3 linked regions of the Homo sapiens genome follow. The protein of the gene in region 1 purifies or fractionates together with the protein of each later gene. This does not show direct contact. Each region holds a gene or a part of one and is shown in the gene's direction. Other genes may lie near its edges.

What was found.
Region 2: the proteins of MTCL2 (region 1) and CCDC77 purify together in Homo sapiens (affinity purification with mass spectrometry; one large-scale study listed by BioGRID and IntAct). This does not show direct contact.
Region 3: the proteins of MTCL2 (region 1) and NPHP4 purify together in Homo sapiens (co-immunoprecipitation; one large-scale study listed by IntAct). This does not show direct contact.

The regions. Positions count from the first base shown.
Region 1 is NC_000020.11:36,853,444-36,857,166, reverse strand, and holds part of MTCL2 (microtubule cross-linking factor 2), read left to right. Parts: intron 1-3,723. UniProt on the Homo sapiens protein: Microtubule-associated factor that enables integration of the centrosomal and Golgi-associated microtubules on the Golgi membrane, supporting directional migration. Preferentially acts on the perinuclear microtubules accumulated around the Golgi.
Region 2 is NC_000012.12:435,935-439,657, forward strand, and holds part of CCDC77 (coiled-coil domain-containing protein 77), read left to right. Parts: intron 1-2,400; coding exon 2,401-2,620; intron 2,621-3,723.
Region 3 is NC_000001.11:5,863,426-5,866,925, reverse strand, and holds part of NPHP4 (nephrocystin-4), read left to right. Parts: intron 1-467; coding exon 468-553; intron 554-1,652; coding exon 1,653-1,824; exon of another isoform or gene 1,825-2,402; intron 2,403-2,408; coding exon 2,409-2,588; intron 2,589-2,892; coding exon 2,893-3,036; intron 3,037-3,500. UniProt on the Homo sapiens protein: Involved in the organization of apical junctions; the function is proposed to implicate a NPHP1-4-8 module. Does not seem to be strictly required for ciliogenesis. Required for building functional cilia.

The DNA.
Region 1 (3,723 bases):
ACAAACCCACACAGACGTTATACACACACACTAGCATCCACAGAAGTCTGCACATCTACCCTTGCCAGGCTGGCCCAGGCACAAGCTCACCACCCGGGTACCTCCCCTGCCTCTTCTACAAAGAGAGCAGCAGAGACTTGCACACCTACCCGAGGCTTACAGACACCCACCAAGGGGACTCCCACATGCACATCAGCAGGGACACAGCACAGTCTGGCATGCAAACATTAGGCATGTAGCATTTGCCCACAGGAGCCAGAGGCTCTCAAACCAGGGAACCTAGACACACGCACACACGTGCGCGCACGCACACACACACACACACACGCTGTGACATTTCATCCACACACAGAAACAGGAAATCCTGGTCTGTGTCTCCCTGGAGCTAATGTGTACAAACTACTACTGTTTTCAGTGGCTCACTAGACTTACTTCTACAAGGCTGCTGGGAACACTAAGGAGTGTGGCCAGGGCCTTGACTTTGTAACCTTCTGGAGCTGGGGGTCTTGGGGTCCTGGGTGGTGGGTGGATGGGGGTGGTAGGTCTTGAAGTCAGAAGAAGCTACACCGAAGTCCCCCAGGTCCCTGATGCCCAGCTCCTGGGCCCAGGGCCAGTGGGGCTGAGTGAAGTGGACCGATTGTCGAGCTGCCCACAGAAGAAACACTGCCCGGGGGCAACTCCCTTCTAATCTCCTTGGAATTTCCTGCTGGCCCTATCTCCCCCTTCTCCCCCTGTTCCCTTGCTGGGGGCTGCAGAGGGCCATGCCACTCCCATCTATAAAGGGTGCCCCATTCTGGCTGGGGAATGATGGAGGCAAGGGTAGAGGTGGCTAGAGGAGCTATGGGAGCTCAGAGGAGGGACTTGGCAGACTTCCTGGAGGAGGAGGTGTCCTTGGAGCTGGGGAGTTAGCCTCAAGTGGCTGTCTCTGTGCCCAGCTCTTAGAACAGTGCCTGCCATGTTGTAGGGGCTCAATAAATATGTGTACAATTAAGTGAAAGGCAGTAGGCAGGGCCTGGAGGTGGACCACAGGCTTGAAACGGAAAAGCTGGAGGGAGTGGTGGGAGCTGGCAGGGATGGGGAGAGTCTGGGAAGGGGCGTTGGGCTGGCTTGGGAAGGGCATTGAATGCCAAGCCAAGGGAGCACCTTGCTGGGAGTGGTCTTGTTGCAGCAAAGCTGCAGCCACCTCCTTTTATGTGTCTGCAGCCCTGGGCCTGAGGCCTGCCCTGCCGGAGAGGCCTGGGGAGGGAGGAGAGCCAGGCTGTGTGGTCTAGGGGCCAACTCCACCTCTGGAGTCAAGTCTGGAGCCAAACCTCACTGTGTCACCTCCTCCGTGTGCATGCTGTCCCTGTGCAAACCCCTCACCAAGACTCCGTCTTCCTCCTGTAAAATGGGGATGTGATCCTTTCTAGTGGGGCACTTGGGAGGCTGACAGCTCAGATGTTCTGTGCACCTAGCACCATCCTGGCACAGAGGAGGGGAGGAGGCCCCGTGTCTTGCATAGCCTCCGGGGCAGAGAGAGTCCCCTAGGAAAGGGGCGCAGCTAAGTTCAAGCAAGGGCCTGCCCAGCAGCCAAGGTTTTCACTGAGGTCATTCCCCTAGTCCCCACATGCATGACCTCATCCATGGTCACGTTCACTCCCCTTGGTGCCGGAAGGAACTTGGAGCTGGGGTGCTCCATGCCAGGCTGACCCTGGCATCACTGGAGGCCTCAGTCAGCACTGCATCTACCTGCTTTGCGGTAGTGAGGCACAGCAGGGGTCAGAGCAGGTGGAAGCAGCAGGCCAGCCCTTTGTTCTCCGAGGTCCAGGGTGGTTGGGAGAGAGCACTGTGATCTGGAGCCAAGCTGACTGGGCTGGAATCCCAGCTCTGCCTTTTCCTTTCTGAGCTTTCCCTTTCTGAGCCTCGGTCTCGTCATCTGTAGAATGGGGATGTGGATGTCCTTGCCCCGCACGTTGCCGTGAGGGTTCCGTAAGAGAAAGTGTGCAGGTGTGGGTCCCATTAGCCAGGTCTGGCTCCTGGGAAGGACCCGACAGCACTTGGCGCTTGCCTGTTATATCTGGCTCTGGTGTGACCCCCGTGACCCCAGGTTAAGCTGGGTGCTTGATGACAGGGGCTGTGCTTGGCTCTGGGTGTCCCTCTGTGGGTGTTGGCTTGGGGCATCAGTCTGAGTGTTATGCACAGAGCTGCACTGCATTTTGGGCACCCCCAAACGTATATCCCTGTCTGTGTCCCCCCTTCCCTCCCCCACGGCGTCGTGTCACTCTTCCCTGAATGGCCCAGGCTAGTGCCTCCAGCTTAGTAACTGGTGATACACATTTGCTAATGGAAGGACACCTTTGGCGGCCCCTCATTCTCAAATGGAGGTGAATCATCTCTCACTGCCTGAGCCACAAGGAAAAGCTCAGCCTCTATGAAAAAAATTCTGGGGTTCCCTAGCTAGGCTGGATCAGCTGAACATCTTTACTCTGGTTGGGGCCCAGGCCTGCTTTGGGTCTTCTGGGCTCGAGTCAGTTGCACCAGCCTCTCCCCTCCCCGCCTCTCCTTGACCCTACCCCATGGTGGAGCAGCCTGTGTGGTCCTGCCTCCCACAGCCTCACCCACCCCTGCCCCGCCCAAGCTCTGCGGGTGCTGGACACACCCCGGCCTCTGTCCCGTGCTCTTGCTCTTCCCATCCGGCCTTTGTGCTTGCAGTTCCCGGCTCCTTCCCTTGGTTTCTTCCTCCACCTTTGAGCGCTCAGCCCCAGCAGCAGCTCCCCAGGTCAGGCTCCTGTGTCAGACACCTTGGAGCTCCCTGGAGCTTCCTTTGGGGCATTTACCACGATGTTGATTAGATTATTAATGGGGTAATGATAGGTTTCATGCCATCACTGCCCCACCTTTCCCTGCATGAGGGCAGGGACCTTCCAGGGTAATTAGCTCCTTCCTTTTACAAAGGGAGAAACTAAGGCCCAGAGAGGTTAAGGGGCTTGTTAGAGGTCATGCAGCCTGTAAGTGGCAAGAGGCAAGACTGGGGTCTTGTGCTTCTCTCCAGGATGCCAGGCAGGGGGAATGGCAGGGGTGTGAAGTGCTGGGGTGTCCTGGAGCTTCAGGCTTTGTGGCCTTGGGCCACTCTCTTTGGAGCTTTGCCTTCTATCCCTAAAGACCTCAGACCCCTGCTCTGAGTTTTTGAGATTTCGCTGCAACCCAGAGGGTGTTTGGGGGATGTTTTAAACACATCCAGGTCCAGATGCTGCCTTCCTTCCTGTTCACATGGAAAGGATGGGAGGAAACTGTCAGGCGCTTCCTGACACGAATGCCCCAGAGGCCGTAGGGCCTGTGGATATCTCCCTGCTCTGCCAGGTAAGGCCTTGAATGGGAGAGTGACAACAGTGACAAGCCAGATGTGGCCTTGGTGGGCAGTGGTCTCTTACCAACAACAACCACCACACACACACACACACACACACACACACACACACACACACCCCTCCCTGATAGAGCATCTGTAGTGTCTCTTGTGCAGAACTGTACCAGACGGATCTGGGAGGCTCACTCCTGACTGGCTGCGTAGACCTTATCTTCCTGGGCCTCCGTTTGCTTGTCTGTGAAATGGGGATAAAATAATAATAGTGCCTGCCTCTAAGGATCATCACTGAGCAAGAGATAATGGCTTTTCTGTCTCAGTCCGGTGTCTGGAACGCATTAAACGCTTGTCAATGTTAGCTATTGTTATCGTCACCATTG
Region 2 (3,723 bases), on another chromosome or scaffold:
TTGCTATATTGCCCAGGCTAGTCTCAAACTCCTGGTTTCAAGCAATCCTCTCACCTCAGCCTCCTGAAGCACTGAGATTACAGACATGAGCCACTGTGCCCAGCCTTGCACTCTCATTCTTAGTACATTAATTCAAACTCTATTCCTTTGTTTAAATTGTTCCTATTGCTGATCCTTTGTCTTTTTTTTTTTTTTTTTTTTGAGACAGAGTCTCGCTGTGTCGTCCAGGCTGGAGTGCAGTGGCACAATCTCGGCTCACTGCAAGCTCCGCCTCCCGGGTTCATGCCATTCTCCTGCCTCAGCCTCCTGAGTAGCTGGGACTACAGGCGCCCACCACCACGCCCGGCTAATTTTTTTTTTTTAATTGTATTTTTAGTAGAGACAAGGTTTCACCGTGTTAGCCAGGATGGTCTCGATCTGACCTCGTGATCTGCCCGCCTCGGCCTCCCAAAGTGCTGGGATTTCCTTCTTAGTAGAGACAGGGTTTCACCATGTTGGCCAAGCTGGTCTCGATCCTGACCTCAGGTAACCTGCCCACCTCAGCCTCCCAAAGTGTTGGGATTACAGGCGGGAGCCATCGCGCCCGGTCTGCTATGTTTCTTTTAACATAGTATAATGTGTTTGCATTTGGCCAGTATTTCTCCACCTTCATTTTTATTTTTAGTATTTTTGCACTTAAGTATAGCATCTTGACATTTCAATGGGTTTTGTTTTTAAGGAACAGATATTTTAATATTGTCATAGTAATTTGTAATTTTATATCTGTTTTCCAGAATACCAGTAACCTTCCTTGTTTAGCGTTATCTGCATATCTGAGCACATGATCGGTTCCTTCCATTAGATGGATCTTCCTAAGAAGGGCATGAAATCCAGGGCCGTTAATGACTGCCCTTTGGGTATCACTTTCAAGCTACTTGTATTTTAACAAGCCTATAGTTTCCCAGTTTGAGATTGAGAAGATAATGTAAGACAGAATAAAATAACTCATTGAAAGTGAGAGAGACCCTTGTGGTAATTGAATCAATCTCTCTCTACATACACATGCACACATACCTGACTGTATATATTCACCTTGTGACATTTACTCTACTGTGTGCTTGGCACTCTGCTGTCATTTCCTCTTATCTGTGCACTCTGTTACTCATGAAAATAAGTGGATCTCACATTATTTGTTTGGTAGAAAAATACAGTGATTGCTTCATGGTATTTAATACTCTTGCAAGCAGCCAGATCATTCAGTATAGCATTTTTCTGGGTGGTAATGTTAAACTGATGAGTTGCTAACTTCCAGGGATATTGTTTTTTAAAGATAGAGACGTTGTCTATTCCTAAATTTCAGGAAATAGTCACCATGAATCTGTTAACTGCCTGTGTATGTCCAGTAGTTAGTATTATCCTTGACAATCTCATGGCATTGGGGCAAAAATAATAAATAAGGTATATGCTTTCACTCAGGCTGGGAAAAAGTGCATGTTGACAGTTAAAATATGACAGATGAGCAAGTGTTGAATTATAAGACAAGGGAACATTAACCTGGGATGGAGTTTCAGAGAATGGAGGAATTAAAATAGGCTAAAGTTGTTGGAAATGACTTCATACAGGAAGTTGATTTTTAAAAAAGTAGGCCAGGTGCAGTGGTTCACACTTGTAATCCCAGTATTTTGGGAGGCTGGGGCGAGAGGAGTGTATGAGCCCAGGAGTTCCAGACCAGACAAGCCTAAGGAACATAGCAAGACCCCATCTCCACACACACACAAATTTTTAATGAGCTGGCAAACACCCTGGGAGGTGGTCCCAGCTGCTTAGGAGGCTGAGACAGAAGGATTGCTTGAGCCCAGAAGGTCAGGGCTGCTGTGAGCTGTGATCGTGCCTCTGCACTCCAACCTACGTGACAGAGCAAGACCCTGTCTTAAAAAAAAAAAAAAAAAAAAGTTCTTTTTAAAATAAACAAAGGATAAGATTTTGATATAGGCAGTTCTACATGGAGCACAGCATACACAAAAGCAAAGCTGTTTTTGATACTATAGAATTTGTATTAACTTGTCAGAACACCGTGATTTAGTTCTTCCTTGTCTTATTCCTAGGAATGGTCCATAGTTAACGCAGGCTATGTGTAAATATCCCTGTAGTCCTTCTAATCATATAATCTGAAGTTCGCACTCAGGAAAGTACCTGTAAAGACCAGTCTATGAACCAGTGAGCATGGGTAGATACATTATACTTTACCCAGTAAAACATGTAAGATTGCCAGTGATCAGATTTTTAAACCTGCTAATATTTTACAAAATTTATATATCACACCATTTTAAAAGAACCACTCTCTTCCATTTTGGAATAATCCTTGCTTTCAGGTGTGCTGTGTGCGCATCCTCATGTCTGCATTTATACTTTCTTTCCTAGTCTTCACCACACCCAAGAACTGCTCTATGAGAGCACCAAAGATTTTCTGCAACTCAGATCTGAAAACCAAAATAAAGAGAAGTCATGGATGCTTGAAAAAGATAATTTGATGTCAAAGATTAAGCAATATAGGGTGCAGTGTAAGAAGAAAGAAGATAAAATTGGAAAAGTGTTGCCCGTTATGCATGAGAGTCACCATGCTCAAAGTGAATATATTAAGGTAATGTCCTTATGTCGTAACGAAGTTGTTTATTTTTCTGGGAGAGTTGAAGGAATTCCAAAGAACCTACAATTTGTAATGTAAGATCCATTCAGTCCAGGAAGCTCTGGTAGCAGCTGCCTCAAGAACTAGGTTTCAAAGAGCAGCTGATCGTTGTAGTATTTGGGGATTCAAAATATTAGACTTGTTGATTCATTCATTCATTCATTCAACAAATATTTATTGTACTCCTGGCCGGGCACAGTGGTTCACGCCTGTAATCCCAGCACTTTGGGAGGCCTAGGTGGGCAAATCGTGAGGTCAGGAGTTCAAGACCAGCCTGGCCAACATGGTGAAACCCCGTCTCTACTAAAAATACAAAAAAAAAAAAAAAATTAGCTGAGCATGATGGTGGGTGCCTGTAATCCCAGCTACTTGGGAGGCTGAGGCAGGAGAATTGCTTGAACCCGGGAGGCAGAAGTTGCAGTCAGCCGAGACTGTGCCACTGCACTCCAGCCCCGATGACAGTGCGAGACTGTGTCTCAAAACAAACACAAAAAAACATAAATATTTATTGCACTCGTACTATGGGTTAGGCCCTAGAGTTACAGTAATCTAAACAAGGTCTTCCCTCATGGTGTTTACATTTTAATGGGTGAGAAAAAACAGAAACATTAGCAAATAACTAAGAAAATTATAGATTAGGCCAGACGCGATGGCTCACACCTGTAATCCCAGCACTTTGGGAGGCCAAGGCGGGTGGATCACCTGAGGTCAGGAGTTCGAGACCAGCCTGACCAACATGGTGAAACCCCGTCTCTACTGAAAATATAAAAATTGGTGGGGCGTGGTGGTGGGCACCTGTAATCCCAGTTACTCGGGAGGCTGAGGCAGGAGAATCACCTGAACCCGGGAGGCAGAGGTTGCAGTGAGCTGAGATCATGCGATTGTACTCCAGCCTGGGCGACAGAGTGGGACTCCATCTCAAAAAAAAAAAAGGACTTTGGGAGGCAGAGGTGGGTGGATCACGAGGTCAGGAGTTCGAGAGCAGCCTTGCCAGCACAGCGGAACCCTGTCTCTACCAAAAATATAAAAAAATAGCCAGGCGTGGTGGCGGACACCTG
Region 3 (3,500 bases), on another chromosome or scaffold:
CTGCTAAGTGGTTTCTTTCCCAAGGTACTAAAGGGCTATTTTGACATCCTTATGAGAGCTTTATGAGTGTGTTTTTATTTTTTCTACTAGCAGATCAGCTCCTTGATCATCTGAATTTAAATTTTAAAAAGGCACGAAGCAAAGTTAATAAAGTGGATGGTAATTAAGGCACTTATTAATTACCATTATGTAAAGGATAAGGCAATAATTGTGTTATGACCAGTTAGGAAACCGGATAAAATCTCCTGTAGAATCTAATTGTTGAGATCCATGTAAAATCAGGAAGCTAATGATCTTCTCTTTGGCAGTGAACAGAATAGTGAATTCCGATTGGTATAGAACATGAACAGATGCGTTCTGGGAGGGACTGGCCGTCACTCGCTGCGTGTATTAGTCACAGATTTAGGGGCCAGGCTGGGGTCGGCAGAGCACTGTGTGCCCTGATGTGCTGCACATCTGGTTGGCAGGGCCCCGGGGAACCACGGGACATATTTCTGAAGGTGGCCAGTGGTCCAAGCCCGGAGATCAAAGACTTCTTTGTCATCATTTACTCGTAAGTGCACAGGCTTTGGGGACCTGGAGGCGGTGGCGGAGGAGAGGAGGAGGCAGGCCTGGGGCTGCTGGTGGATTGAAAGTGGGCTTGGCCCCTTCCTAAAATTGGGGGAGCTTTCGGGCCTTCGCTTTGTGAGGCGGGATTCTGCTGCGAGTTCAGGGCCCGCAGGGGTCTAGGGAAGGCACCTTGGAGGGGCACGTGCAGCCTGAGGGACTTGGGATGCAGCTCCTGCCACCAAGGAGAGACACCAGTCAGCCTCTGTCCCCAGATAGTGGCAAGGGCCACCCAGAAGCCCCTCATTACCTTTTTCTTGCTGAGTCCCTAGGCTGAACAGCATGAATGAAGCTGTGGTCCCTCCTGCGGAGAGGCAGGACTGTGGTGGAAATGCCCATCCCTCTCTCCTCCAGGCTAAATGACCCGGCCCCTTTCCCCTCCCCTCCTAAGTCGGATCCCCAAGCCCTGTGAGAATCCTTTCAAACTGGTGTGAGCTCGGAGATTTCCTGCAGTGCTTCTGAGGATGGGGCAGGGGCTAACCTGCACTCAGTGCCCACCACAGAGGGGCCACGTGACCACGTCTCAGAGTGGCTTCCTCGTGAGCCCATGAAGATGCCTCACCCAGCCCCATTTGACTGTGAAGCAGCAGGCTCTTGGCCCTAAAATGCTAACAGGGGCTTCCGTGCTCAGGCCGGCATGACCTCCAGCCCCACCCTGTCTCCTGCGTGGCGCTGCCCTTGGCTTAGCCTCAGAACCCCTATTGGGGGTGGACACTTGTCCAGGATGTGTGTTTGGCCAAAGCGTGCCTTGTCATTTGTTTGACATGTGGTTCCTAAGCAGCCCTGCTGCGCCCTGAGAGCCTCTGCTGTGGGTGGGAGATGGGCAGCCAGGGGTGGAGCCACCAGGCCCTAGCTCTGCCTCCTGGGGCCTGGTCCTCCGGGGCTTTCCCTGCGTGGCCCCAGCTCTGCCTCCTGTGGCCTGGTCCTCTGGGGCTTTCCCTGCACAGCCTCCTGTCTGCCCACGCTCCTGGCAGCCCTTGTTGGCCTCTCGTGGGCCGGTGCTGAGTCCTCCGGGACAAGTGCAGATGGCTCCCATCCCACTGCAGGGATCGCTGGCTGGCGACACCCACACAGACGTGGCAGGTCTACCTCCACTCCCTGCAGCGCGTGGATGTCTCCTGCGTCGCAGGCCAGCTGACCCGCCTGTCCCTTGTCCTTCGGGGGACACAGACAGTGAGGAAAGTGAGAGCTTTCACCTCTCATCCCCAGGAGCTGAAGGTACGGCCTCTCTGGGGGCTGTTCTGAGCCTCTCCCCAACCCCAGCCTGGAGACGGGCAGTGGGCATTCAGCTGGAGCACAGTGGGTGGCCCTGACAGCAGCTTTTCCAGCGCCTCCAGCGCGCAGACGCTGTTACCAGAGGCCTCTCGGCAGTTGCCTTTCGTTAGATGTGCCATTGTGGGGTGAGTGACGTACACACCAACCCCAAAGGCCGGTGTTCAGAATTCCTGGCAAGGTGAACAGTGACAGGAGCTCTGGTGTTAGTGAAGCCACAGTTAGACGGGGTGGGAGGGCGGCCCCTGGTGCCACCAGCTGGCCGGGGTTTTAAGCCCAAGATGGCTTCAGTTCTGTCTGCGGAGGCAGCGCTTAGGGAATAGTCGCCGTGTGAGAGGAGGGACTTGCCTGGTGTGGACCCAAGTCGCGGCCACAGTCATGTCAGGGTTGGTTGTGGCCTCAGATTTGGCCGCCCCGGAACCACCCATGACCTTGGGCTCCCCTGGCTGATTGGGCTGCAGGCGCCCAGGAGCCCCTTGCTTGCACATCCTGAGAGGCTGTGCTCTGACCCGCCTCTCTCGCTCTTGAAGACAGACCCCAAAGGTGTCTTCGTGCTGCCGCCTCGTGGGGTGCAGGACCTGCATGTTGGCGTGAGGCCCCTTAGGGCCGGCAGCCGCTTTGTCCATCTCAACCTGGTGGACGTGGATTGCCACCAGCTGGTGGCCTCCTGGCTCGTGTGCCTCTGCTGCCGCCAGCCGCTCATCTCCAAGGTCTGTATGTGTGGCAGGCACAGGCTGAGGGGATGGGGGCTCAATACCAGGGCACTGCAGGACCCCCACCTCGGCCCTGTGACTCGGACCACTGGATACAGTGTTCTGACCCAGCAGGGCCGGGTGCATGAGTGTTTGCTCCTGTGCTGTGTCTCTCCCGGATGGAAGCTCCAGAGAGCGTCTGTCTTATCTCTGTGGGGGTCCCCGTGCACGGTGCACAGGAGACTCAGGGAATACTTGGAGGAAGGGCCAGTGGCTGTTCCCGTGAGTGGCCGCAGCGTCTCCCTGTCCCCTCCCTCCACAGGCCTTTGAGATCATGTTGGCTGCGGGCGAAGGGAAGGGTGTCAACAAGAGGATCACCTACACCAACCCCTACCCCTCCCGGAGGACATTCCACCTGCACAGCGACCACCCGGAGCTGCTGCGGTTCAGAGAGGACTCCTTCCAGGTGTGGTGGGGCTGTGCCTGGGACTCCTAGGGGAAGACCCGGGGACCTGAATGGAGGGCAGTTAGCCTGCATTTAGGAGCGAGTTCCTCAAATCACCAGCAGTCTTCCAAAAGCCCCAGGGCGGTGACAGGTACCATCCCATAGTTGGGTGGGCCCGTTGTATCTTTAGTAGCTGGAGATTTAGCAAAGTTTCTCCTGAGTGTGGGAAAGGGTGTTGTGCCCAGGGCTTTTCATGGTAATGTTAGACAGCTCAGTCTCGGAAATAAGTGTGCCTTCGAGTCCAAGTAACGCGTCACACTGGCTGAGCACTGGTTCCCATCCTTGTACCGGGCGCTGAAGTCAAAGGCAGGCCTTGGATGCACCCGCAGGGCTCCCCTGCCTTGTCAGCTCCCCTTGGAAATAAACACGACCATGCAGAGAGGTTGCTGGTGAGAGCGTGGGACAGCCCGGGGGTGGATGCTGGG